Linked DNA regions of Homo sapiens. The protein of the gene in region 1 purifies or fractionates together with the protein of each later gene. This does not show direct contact. Each region holds a gene or a part of one and is shown in the gene's direction. Other genes may lie near its edges. The genes, in order: RIBC1, CNOT11 and CNOT7.

The links.
Region 2: the proteins of RIBC1 (region 1) and CNOT11 purify together in Homo sapiens (co-immunoprecipitation; 3 studies listed by BioGRID and IntAct, with this or other methods). This does not show direct contact.
Region 3: the proteins of RIBC1 (region 1) and CNOT7 purify together in Homo sapiens (co-immunoprecipitation; 3 studies listed by BioGRID and IntAct, with this or other methods). This does not show direct contact.

What each region holds. Positions count from the first base shown.
Region 1 is NC_000023.11:53,425,686-53,428,794, forward strand, and holds part of RIBC1 (RIB43A-like with coiled-coils protein 1), read left to right. Parts: intron 1-591; coding exon 592-708; intron 709-2,317; coding exon 2,318-2,399; intron 2,400-2,597; coding exon 2,598-2,942; coding exon of another isoform or gene 2,943-2,977; exon of another isoform or gene 2,978-3,109.
Region 2 is NC_000002.12:101,262,886-101,266,385, forward strand, and holds part of CNOT11 (CCR4-NOT transcription complex subunit 11), read left to right. Parts: intron 1-1,959; coding exon 1,960-2,162; intron 2,163-3,236; exon of another isoform or gene 3,237-3,500. UniProt on the Homo sapiens protein: Component of the CCR4-NOT complex which is one of the major cellular mRNA deadenylases and is linked to various cellular processes including bulk mRNA degradation, miRNA-mediated repression, translational repression during translational initiation and general transcription regulation.
Region 3 is NC_000008.11:17,224,360-17,227,293, reverse strand, and holds the end of CNOT7 (CCR4-NOT transcription complex subunit 7), read left to right. Parts: 3' UTR 1-2,328; downstream 2,329-2,934. UniProt on the Homo sapiens protein: Has 3'-5' poly(A) exoribonuclease activity for synthetic poly(A) RNA substrate. Its function seems to be partially redundant with that of CNOT8.

The sequences.
Region 1 (3,109 bases):
TTATTTTGAAAGAAGAAGGAGTGAGGGAAAGGAAGGATTAAAGGATGTCTCCTAGGTTTTTGACCGGAGCAACTTGGTGAATGGTGGTGCCACTTACTGAAATAAGGAAAACTGAATAGAGTATAATGAAAAAGGAGTGTTGTAGATGTGTTTGAGGCTTAGAAAGGTGAGCAGGGGTCAGATCATGAAGAACCTTATAAATCTGGCAAAGGGGGTTGGGCCTTATAAGCACTGGGGAGCCATTGCTTTAAAGGTGCTTTCAAAGGCTTTACGCTGAGGAGTGCCATGGTCAGATTTGCTTCCCAAAGATCACTCTGGTAGCCAGTGCAGAGAAATCCAGTGCAGAGAGGGTAACGTTGGAGCAAGAGAACCCAGTGGGGCTCCTGAGATACTGCCTGACACCAGATTGTGAGGCCTGAATTAAGCTGGTGACAGCAGAGATGGAGGGCACAGATACGAAATATATCAGGAAGTAAAATCAGTAGGAATCAATAACTGCTGAAATATTATAGGGAGAAAGGAATGGGGGTGGCGTGTAGTCAAAGACGGTGGTCGGCACTGATGGGCCATTCCACCTCCCTTTTGCTCCAGATGTATAACATAAAACAGTCAACAGATACCAAGGAAGCAGCAGCCATCGAGGCTAGAAGAAATCGAGAAAAAGAGCGACAAAACCGATTCTTCAATGTGCGGAACCGAGTCATGGGGGTGAGTGGGTAGTAGGGACTGTTGCTCAGGATCAGGGCCACCTCACTCTTACACCTGGAGAGGAATGTGTAACAGTGCCCATGATAGCCCTTCCCCTGATTCAAGTAGGCCCCTAGGGCAGGAAAGGAAAGAGAGGGAGAGAAGGCACCCACCCCTACAGGCCTGGGAAGAGCTTGGGAAGAGGGATAGGTCAGTGCAGGGGAAGAGACTAGGGGAGACGGCTGACCCTTCTCCAGTCAGCTCTGGGCCATGTGACCTGGTTCTTGAGACAGGCAACATGGAGCTAAAAGAGGCCTAAAGAATATTTGGAGTCCGGGTGCAGTGGCTTACACCTGTAATCCCAGCACTTTAGGAGGCTGAGGTGAGCAGATCACACAAGGTCAGGAGTTAAAGACCAGCCTGGCCAACGTGGTGAAACCCTGTCTCTACTGAAAATACAAAAATTAGCTGGGCGTGGTTGTGCATGCCTATAATCCCAGCTACTTGGGAGGCTGAAGCACAAGAATCACTTGAATCCAGGAGGAGCAGGTTACAGTGAGCCGAGATCACACCATTGCACTCCAGCCTGAGCAACAGTGAGACCCTGTCTCAAAATTACTGCATATACCTAAACTATCTCTGCAAGGCTATGTTGAGAAACTTAACCAGGCTGAGAGACAGAGATGGAAGGGACACTTACGCCTCACTAAACTGTATTCCTTTTTGTATGATTTTGAAATGTGATAAATGAATTATAATAAAAGAGAAAATATTGATAGTTTAAGAAACAAAAGATTGCTAGGTGAGTGGATAGAGGGGGGATGCAGCATGGTATTCTGGAAAAGACCCCGTAAGTATTTAAGGCCAGGTCTGCTGACTGTTATGTGTGTGGCTTTGGATAAATCACCTGTCTTCTCTGAGCCCCAGGCTCCTCTTCTGTAAAATGAGGCTGAAGGAAGTCAGGTGAGTGTTAACACAGAGTGGCAGCTTTGAAAACCAGTGCATAGTGCCTGCCGTAAGAAGTTGGCTAGGGTATTAGTGTTCTGATTGAGATCCAGCTGACAAGCTGACAAGCATTTCCTCGGGGCCTGCTCTGTGCCAAGCACTGTGTTGGGCAGTGGGGATACGAAAATGACTAAGGCCCAGTTTCTGCCCTGAAAGGGTTCACAGTCTGGTGGAGGAGAGAATACAGAGAGGCGAACATCAATATAATGTAGACAGTGGGTTCTAGATTCTACAGGAGTAGAACCTGCCTGAGGGGTCAGGAAAGTGAAGGCTGAGCTGGTCTCGAAGGACAAATTGGAATTTGTGTAAAGAGGGGAGGAAAGTGTTCCAAGTGGAGGGAGCAGCTTGAGCAAAGGCTATTGGTTCAAAACAGCCTAAGATATTCAGGGAACTGTAAGCACAGCTCATAAGGGTAAGGTGGGACTAAGAGATGAGGCCAGAGAAGGAGGCAGAGGCTAGACCATGGAGAGGCTTACAAACCATGCTCAGGAGCTAGAACTTTATCCAGTAGGTACTGGGGAGCTACAGGATTCTGAAACAGGTAAATTCTAATTAGTTTGTGGTAGGACATTGAAGGCCCCCTGCTGGGCCCCTACTCTGATTGTGCTCCTTTCTTTGGGATCAGGTGGATGTCCAGGCCCTGAACAACCAGGTGGGAGACCGAAAGCGTCGGGAAGCAGCAGAAAGAAGCAAGGAGGCAGCTTATGGTAAAAGCCAAAAGCCAGGGGCCAGACAAGGGTGTAAAGAAAGAGCTCGAGTGGGCTGAGGTAGGGCAGTTCTGCCTCTGTGGCCTGAGGCCCTGGGGTGGTGGGACAAATTGGATGGACCTTGAGAGTAGAGGACATGCTAAGTGGACTCTGTCCCTCCTGGGGTATCTTCTCCATATCCTTGCTCACCACCCCCAGGTACCAGCCAGGTGCAGTATGATGTGGTAGTCCAGATGTTAGAGAAGGAAGAGGCAGATCGAACACGTCAGCTGGCCAAGAAAGTCCAGGAGTTTCGGGAGCAGAAGCAGCAGCTCAAGAACGGGCGTGAATTTAGTCTTTGGGATCCAGGCCAAGTCTGGAAGGGGCTTCCAACCTATCTTAGTTACAGTAATACCTATCCTGGTCCAGCCAGCCTGCAGTACTTCTCTGGGGAAGACCTAGACAGGGACACACGGCTGAGAATGCAGCAGGGGCAGTTCAGGTACAACTTGGAAAGGCAACAGCAGGAGCAACAGCAAGCCAAGGTTGATGAGAATTATACAGGTAAGCAGCCCGGCCCTCCAGACTCAGAGACCTGAGGCCTAGTGGGGATCTGTCCTAAGCTGAGTACAGCAGCCAGGGGACCAGAACTGTGTGGGGAGGTCCACTTATCCATAGGGTTGGTGCTGAAATGTTAGGTTGTGCAGACCCCAACCTCCCTGACTTCCTTC
Region 2 (3,500 bases), on another chromosome or scaffold:
AATGCATGCCAAGTTGTTTGTTGCATGTCTATCCTATGCATACCTAAAGATACAGGCTGGGCGCAGTGGCTCACACCTGCAATCCCAGCATTTTGGGAGGCCGAGGCAGGTGGATAACTTGAGGTCAGGAGTTCTAGAGCAGCCTGGCCAACATGGTGAAACCCCATCTCTACTAAAAATAAAAAATTAGCCGAGTGTAGTGGCATGCATCTGTAGTCCCAGCTACTTGGGAGGCTGAGTCAGGAGAATTGCTGAGGCAGAAGTTGCAGGAGCCGAGATCGAACCACTGCACTCCAGCCTGGGTGACAGAGTGAGATTCTGTCTCAAAAAGGAAAAAAAAAAAATACAGATTCTCATTTTACTGAAATGAGTCTTTTTGTAGCAGCTCATTATCTTTTTGTTTTATACCTGTTAAATCTTCTTATTGCTATCATTTCCTTTTCCATTTTAAAGTTTTTCTTATAAACTCCTAATTTACTTTAATTCAAAGAAAACACTTGTAGAATTTGAAATAATATAGCTGCATTTTTTGGGGATTTCTTTAAGAGATGGAATCTTGCTATGATGCCCAGGCTGGACTCAATCCCTTGAGGCTCAGGGGATCCTCCTACCTCAGACTCCCACATAGTTGGAATTACAGGCATGCACCACTCTACCTGGCATCTGTTTTATAGGCTTCTGTGTGCTTTGAATTATGAAGGCAAGCTTTCTGCTTTGGGATGAGAACATGTTTACCAGATGATAGTGTAGTATCACCATGAGTTTGAAGTTCACACAGTGACTTTTGTACCATTTGGTTTACAGTAGATCTTTGACATACATAGGTTTAATATTTGAAGTTTCTGCTGGTCACAAGTGTGACTGAAATGTCCATGGCATGTAATGGCTTCTTTTAAATATTTGCTCGGGCAGAACTCTAAATTGCATAGGTCACCAGGAAGATATATGAAAAGCAGATCACTCATAATAAGTGGGTCTAGCCAAACACCAGGTGTCCCCACCTCGCAAGAACTCTCTATCACATAAGTAGTATTTCTCATAAATTGTTAAAAACTTTATTTTTGTAAGTGGTTGAAGGGAGATTCAGATGCTAGTCCTGGTGAGGTAAGTGAAGAGGCAGTGGAGATGTTTAAGATAAAGTGATGATTTTTAACTAAAAAATATTTTCTGTAAACTCAACAGTAGACTCTCAAATTTGGCAGGGCTAGGATCCATGACAGGAATAAGCCACTCCTGCCCTATGTGGAAACTATGTGAGATGTGAAATTGGTTCAGCAGAAGTCCTAGCCAGCATTTATTTCAGTGGGTTTGTAACTCAGGGATGAATCTTGTTTTATAAAATAGTTGAGTTGAACCACTTCATTTTCCTTTTGTACTTCTATTGTTTTCTGAAAATGAATATAGTATTTGTGAATTTAGGGATTCGTGACGGTTTCCACATTCGTTTCGAAATATCAAAAGGCAACCATACTTTTCCTCCTGCTGCTTCATCGCCACGTAATTTGTTACTTCAGTTATAAGATGCAAAGATAAAACTAGTACAAATCATAGTGGCAGCTGAACAAATAGTGGTAACTAAGAATAGGATGTGTGAGGGCATAGTATTTCATTTTTTCATCAAAAGACTTCACCCGTTTAGGAGTCGTGCCCTTTTGCTGTTGAGTGGCCATGCTCAAGTGCAGCATGGGCAGATCACGGCCAGGCTTTCCTCACTTCTGCAAAGCGAATAGATTGTTCTCTGGCATCATGCTGGCATAGTGTTCTTTCATTGTCTTGTTTGCATTCTGACTGAAACCCTGACTTCCTGTGTCATTCCTGCTTCTGATTTTGAAGTATGAGAGTTCTAGTCACATCATCCTTATTAAGAGATTTCTTTGCATACTTTATTAAGTGAAATGTGTGAGATGTGTAGAGATGTTAGCTTCCTGATAGGAGCAACTATCACGGCTCTCATTACAGGCCATTTTCGACCAGAGTTTATTCGTCCACCGCCTCCACTCCACATTTGTGAGGATGAACTTGCTTGGCTAAACCCCACGGAGCCTGACCACGCGATCCAGTGGGATAAATCGATGTGTGTTAAGAATAGCACTGGTGTGGAGATCAAACGAATAATGGCCAAAGCCTTCAAAAGCCCCTTATCCTCTCCCCAACAAACACAGGTGTGTATTGATTGTAAGCATTTTCTTATCTTTTTTTTTAAATTTATTTTTAATTAAAAAAATTTGTTTTTGAGACAGAGTCTCACTCGGCTGCCCAGGGTGGAGTGCAGTGGCACGATCTCGGCTCACTGCAGCCTCTGCCTCCCGGGTTCAAGTGATACTCGTGCCTCAGCGCCCCCAGCAGCTGAGACTACAGGCATGCACCACCATGCCCGGCTAATTTTTGTATTTTTATGAGATGGGGTTTTGCCATTGTTGGCCAGGCTGGTCTGGTGGCTTCAAGTGATCTGCCAACCTTGGCCTTCCAAAGTGCTGGGATTACAGGTGTGAGCCACTGTACCCAGCCATTGTGAGCATTTTCTTATCTTTAATCCAACAAGAGTTTATTTTTTTTTTGGAAAGTGGTAAGCAATAAACTAATCCTGTCACTGTGAGTGAGCAGTAGGAAGTTGCAAAGGTTTTTGGGTCTCTGAAGCTTTGTTCTACTCTTTGGTAATTTTGCTGTGGTGGGGCAAGAAGTCTGATGGCAAAAATGTTCTAACTTTTCTTTGTGATGTTTGTCCCTGGGAGAGGTGGGGTAGTGGGGGTGTCACTGCTGTGTACAGTGGGACACTACACAATGGTTACGTTTGAGCTGATGGTAACGCTTCTGATGGAAAGTGGAGTTACTGACAGGCTGTAGGGAGGAAAACAAGGCTGGGAAGGGGAACCCGCCCCCATCACACAGCTGGATCGTGGTGTATTTGAGATTAAAGTAGCCCCCACTGCCCGAGTGTGAGACTGGATGACTCTCCTCAGGAAAGGCAAGGCCACTCTTCTATTGGTTGGTGAATTTTATCCAGTTTGCACACTTTTGAGTTAGAACTTTTTAGGAGATGACCTCTCCTATCACGTTTGCCACCAAAAATATCATTTTCAAAACGAAATAATAGCAACGTTTGTAGTTCGCTTTGCTCGCAAGACCATCCTGAAAACACAGTCCACTGTGGAACATATTAAGTAGACGGGGGAAAAAAAGCATAGGACATTTAAAGAGGAAGTGCTTACTTCATAGAAAAAGTCCTTTGAGGATACCTGTTTGAATTACAAAGTGTGGGTGTGACTTGAACTGTAAAGTTCTGCAGACTGATGACTCGCAGCAGGTCAGCTGTCCGGATTCCCGCTCCGGCTTCCCACTCCGCCCCCTTCTCAGGTATTTCTGGTCTCCACCTGGGTGGGGTGGGGCAGGACTGTTTCTTGGGAGAACTAGTTGGTCATTAAGATTATTTTTAGTTACAACAGATGACAGAAAAAAAAAACCTGCAAAGGACTTGACATTGTTACAACCAGACAGTATTT
Region 3 (2,934 bases), on another chromosome or scaffold:
TATTTTCAAAAAAGTTGATAAACAGTACAACCTGAAGTGGAATCTACTAAGATGTGATGCAACCGATGCTGGGAAAAATGCATGAAGCAGAAAAAAAGTTTATTTGGTCAAATTTTAAGGCTTGTGAAAACGTAAGTTGTTTAAAGCCTGTAGTTACTCACTTGATTATTCATCAGCAGGTACTTCACAGGAAATATTGGTGTTACTGAACTGGTCAACAGTTAACTTCATTTGCTCTTGTGGACTTAACCATCTTCAGTTCCATGATTTTTTTTTTTTTGTGAGAAACAGAAGCTGAATATCCTGATTTGATTTGCCACACAGGCGTTCAATGGCTTAGCAGTGCTAAAGATTTATTTTTATTTTTTTGGGCTCTGGGCTGACATTGAAATTTTTCTGAATGAGAAAAACCATCCTCAACCACTGTTTTTTAACACTGAGTAACTTTGGAAATTAACTTTTGCCACAGACTTGAAAATGTTTCTTAATGAATTTGACCTGAAATTACAAGGTACAACAACATAATATGGTAAATTCATTTCAATAAAAACTAAAACTTAAGATTGTCAAGCTGCTTTATATACTTTCTGTGCTATGAGAAGTCAAAACAGCGCTGTATTGCCAAATCCATTTTTAGTGGATATATTTTCCTGTAGCAGTTTTTTGGACCTTGATGCAGTGCAAAGAAAATTTTTAAATTTTAAAAGCATTTAACTGCAATTAAATGCTTTTAAAGTTTCCTCTTAATCTTCTGTTGGAAATGAATCATCTTGAATGAATGACATGCTAAAGGGCAAATACCAAAAAGATGAATCCTACAAATGCCTTACAAGTGATGAATATGCTTAACTAAAATCACATGCTCATGGGTGGATGTGTCAGTATTTAGCAGTACCTTGACCTGTTTGTGTGAAAAGACATTTTCAAAGATGAAATACGTGAAATCCCATTACACATCAGCATTAACAGATTAACATTTTCTATTTATTCCAATGAGGGGATACCAACTTTCAGCCCAAATTGAGCAAAATGTTACCTCCCGTCCCCTGCCAAAAAATCCCATTATTCCCATTAGTAGAACTCTATTACTAAAAAAAGAAAAAAAAATTGTACTCAATATTTTGAGTTTTCAATTTTTAGAATAAAAATTTGGTGAAAAGTTTCCTTGAGTACCTAAATAATGTCCTTCATTTTGTCTTAGCTTGCAAAGCCTCTAATATTTGCTACCTGCCCTTTTCAAAAAAAAAAAAAAAAAAAAAAAAAAGGCTTGTCCACCTCTCTACTAGAAGAAACTCAAGGGTCTATGTCTGTCCTGTTTGCTATTTCATCTGCATTGCCAAATGCAGTGGCTCCTCTGGGTAGGCAACCTGAGGTGGAATCAAATTATGAATGCATATGTTATCTCATGTCTATAAAATAAATGTGTTAGAATTTATAAATAAAGGGATAGGAAAAATGCTGATTATTCTGTGTGTCGGTGCTTTGTAGTGAAGGCCAGTTCACACATGCCATTTGCTATGTTGGTGTAATTTATATGAGAGTTTCTTTTATAACAACGTTACCTGTCATTTATTTTTCTATTAAGACATTATAGAAACGTAGGACTGTACACATCCAAATCCTGCAGAATTTTCATTTCAGGTTTTGAAAGTTAAAAAAATGTCACCATAGAATGAAAATTCCAAGAAAACAAGATTCATGTACATTATCACTAGACAATTTCCATTTGTTTTAAACAGTTTTCTACAGCATTAGTTACATTTAACGTTTAGTATAAAAGCAATTGAGCAATTTCTCTTTAGAAGTCCATTTCATTGCTTTGTAGCCATAGTCTGTAGGTGAATGAACAAGCTACATTTCTCCAGAATTACTCATTTTCTTTTTAAAGATAAACTGGTCAATACTCTCCTTCCTGGTATGGAGGAATTTTTTGTATATGAGAAGCATTCATGAATATAATCTGCCCTCTTGCTTTATTGTCATAGGAGGGGAAATTCACTGCTTTCACACCCTTCTGTTTTGGCTCTTTCTCCCAAAAGATAAGAATCTTTATTTAGTATCATACCAAGAAATTGGAGTTCCTTTAGCTTCAGACTATCATCATGGCTTCCAAATTGTTAGGAAATACAAGTTTGCAAGACCCCAAGGGGACTTAATATTTTACATCTTACTAGCCATGTCATAGGTTTTAAGTGCTTTTAATGGGGAACTGTTTCACTCATGCCATATACCTGTTTTGTTTTTCTAAAAAATTAATACTGTAAGTTGTGAGCAGGTGTCTTGTATCACTGCGAAACCCATGCATAATAAAAACTTGTTCTTGAGCTATATGTGTGTATACAGACTTTCCTTCCATTCATTGTAGCCATTCTGGGGCTGTCCTCTACTTCTTGCCTAAGTATATGTTTTTTAAATAACTTTAGCACATTTGCATGCTACTCCAAGATGAGTTTATAATTAAGGTTGCTTTTTAAAGTATTCAGCTTTCACACAATAAGTGTTTGATTAGTTCATTTAAGATGTTTTCAATTAGGGAGCCATACATACTGACAGAAAAAGACACAAAATCTAAACTGACAAAATAGCCTTGCTCTCATAACTGAGAAAAATACAACAGGAGAACTGACGCATTCTGTAGTATCTTTTTAAATTCAGAATCAACGGAATTTTACCTTGAAGCATTATGCGTTTTTTTTTCAATTGATTAAGCACCTTTATCAATCAAACAGAAGCAATATATTAAGCATTAATAATTTCAGGTAGGATTCAGCTCCTTGTACTGTTAAACCTTCCCCGGAAGATGCAACATAAATCATAGGTTTTCATAAACCATAAAGTAGTACTATTTTTCCTGAGCAAAAGGGAACTAGCCATAAACCAGGGCTTAAAATAACTTATTAAAAGTTTCCCTTTGGTTTAATTGCTACTCAAATC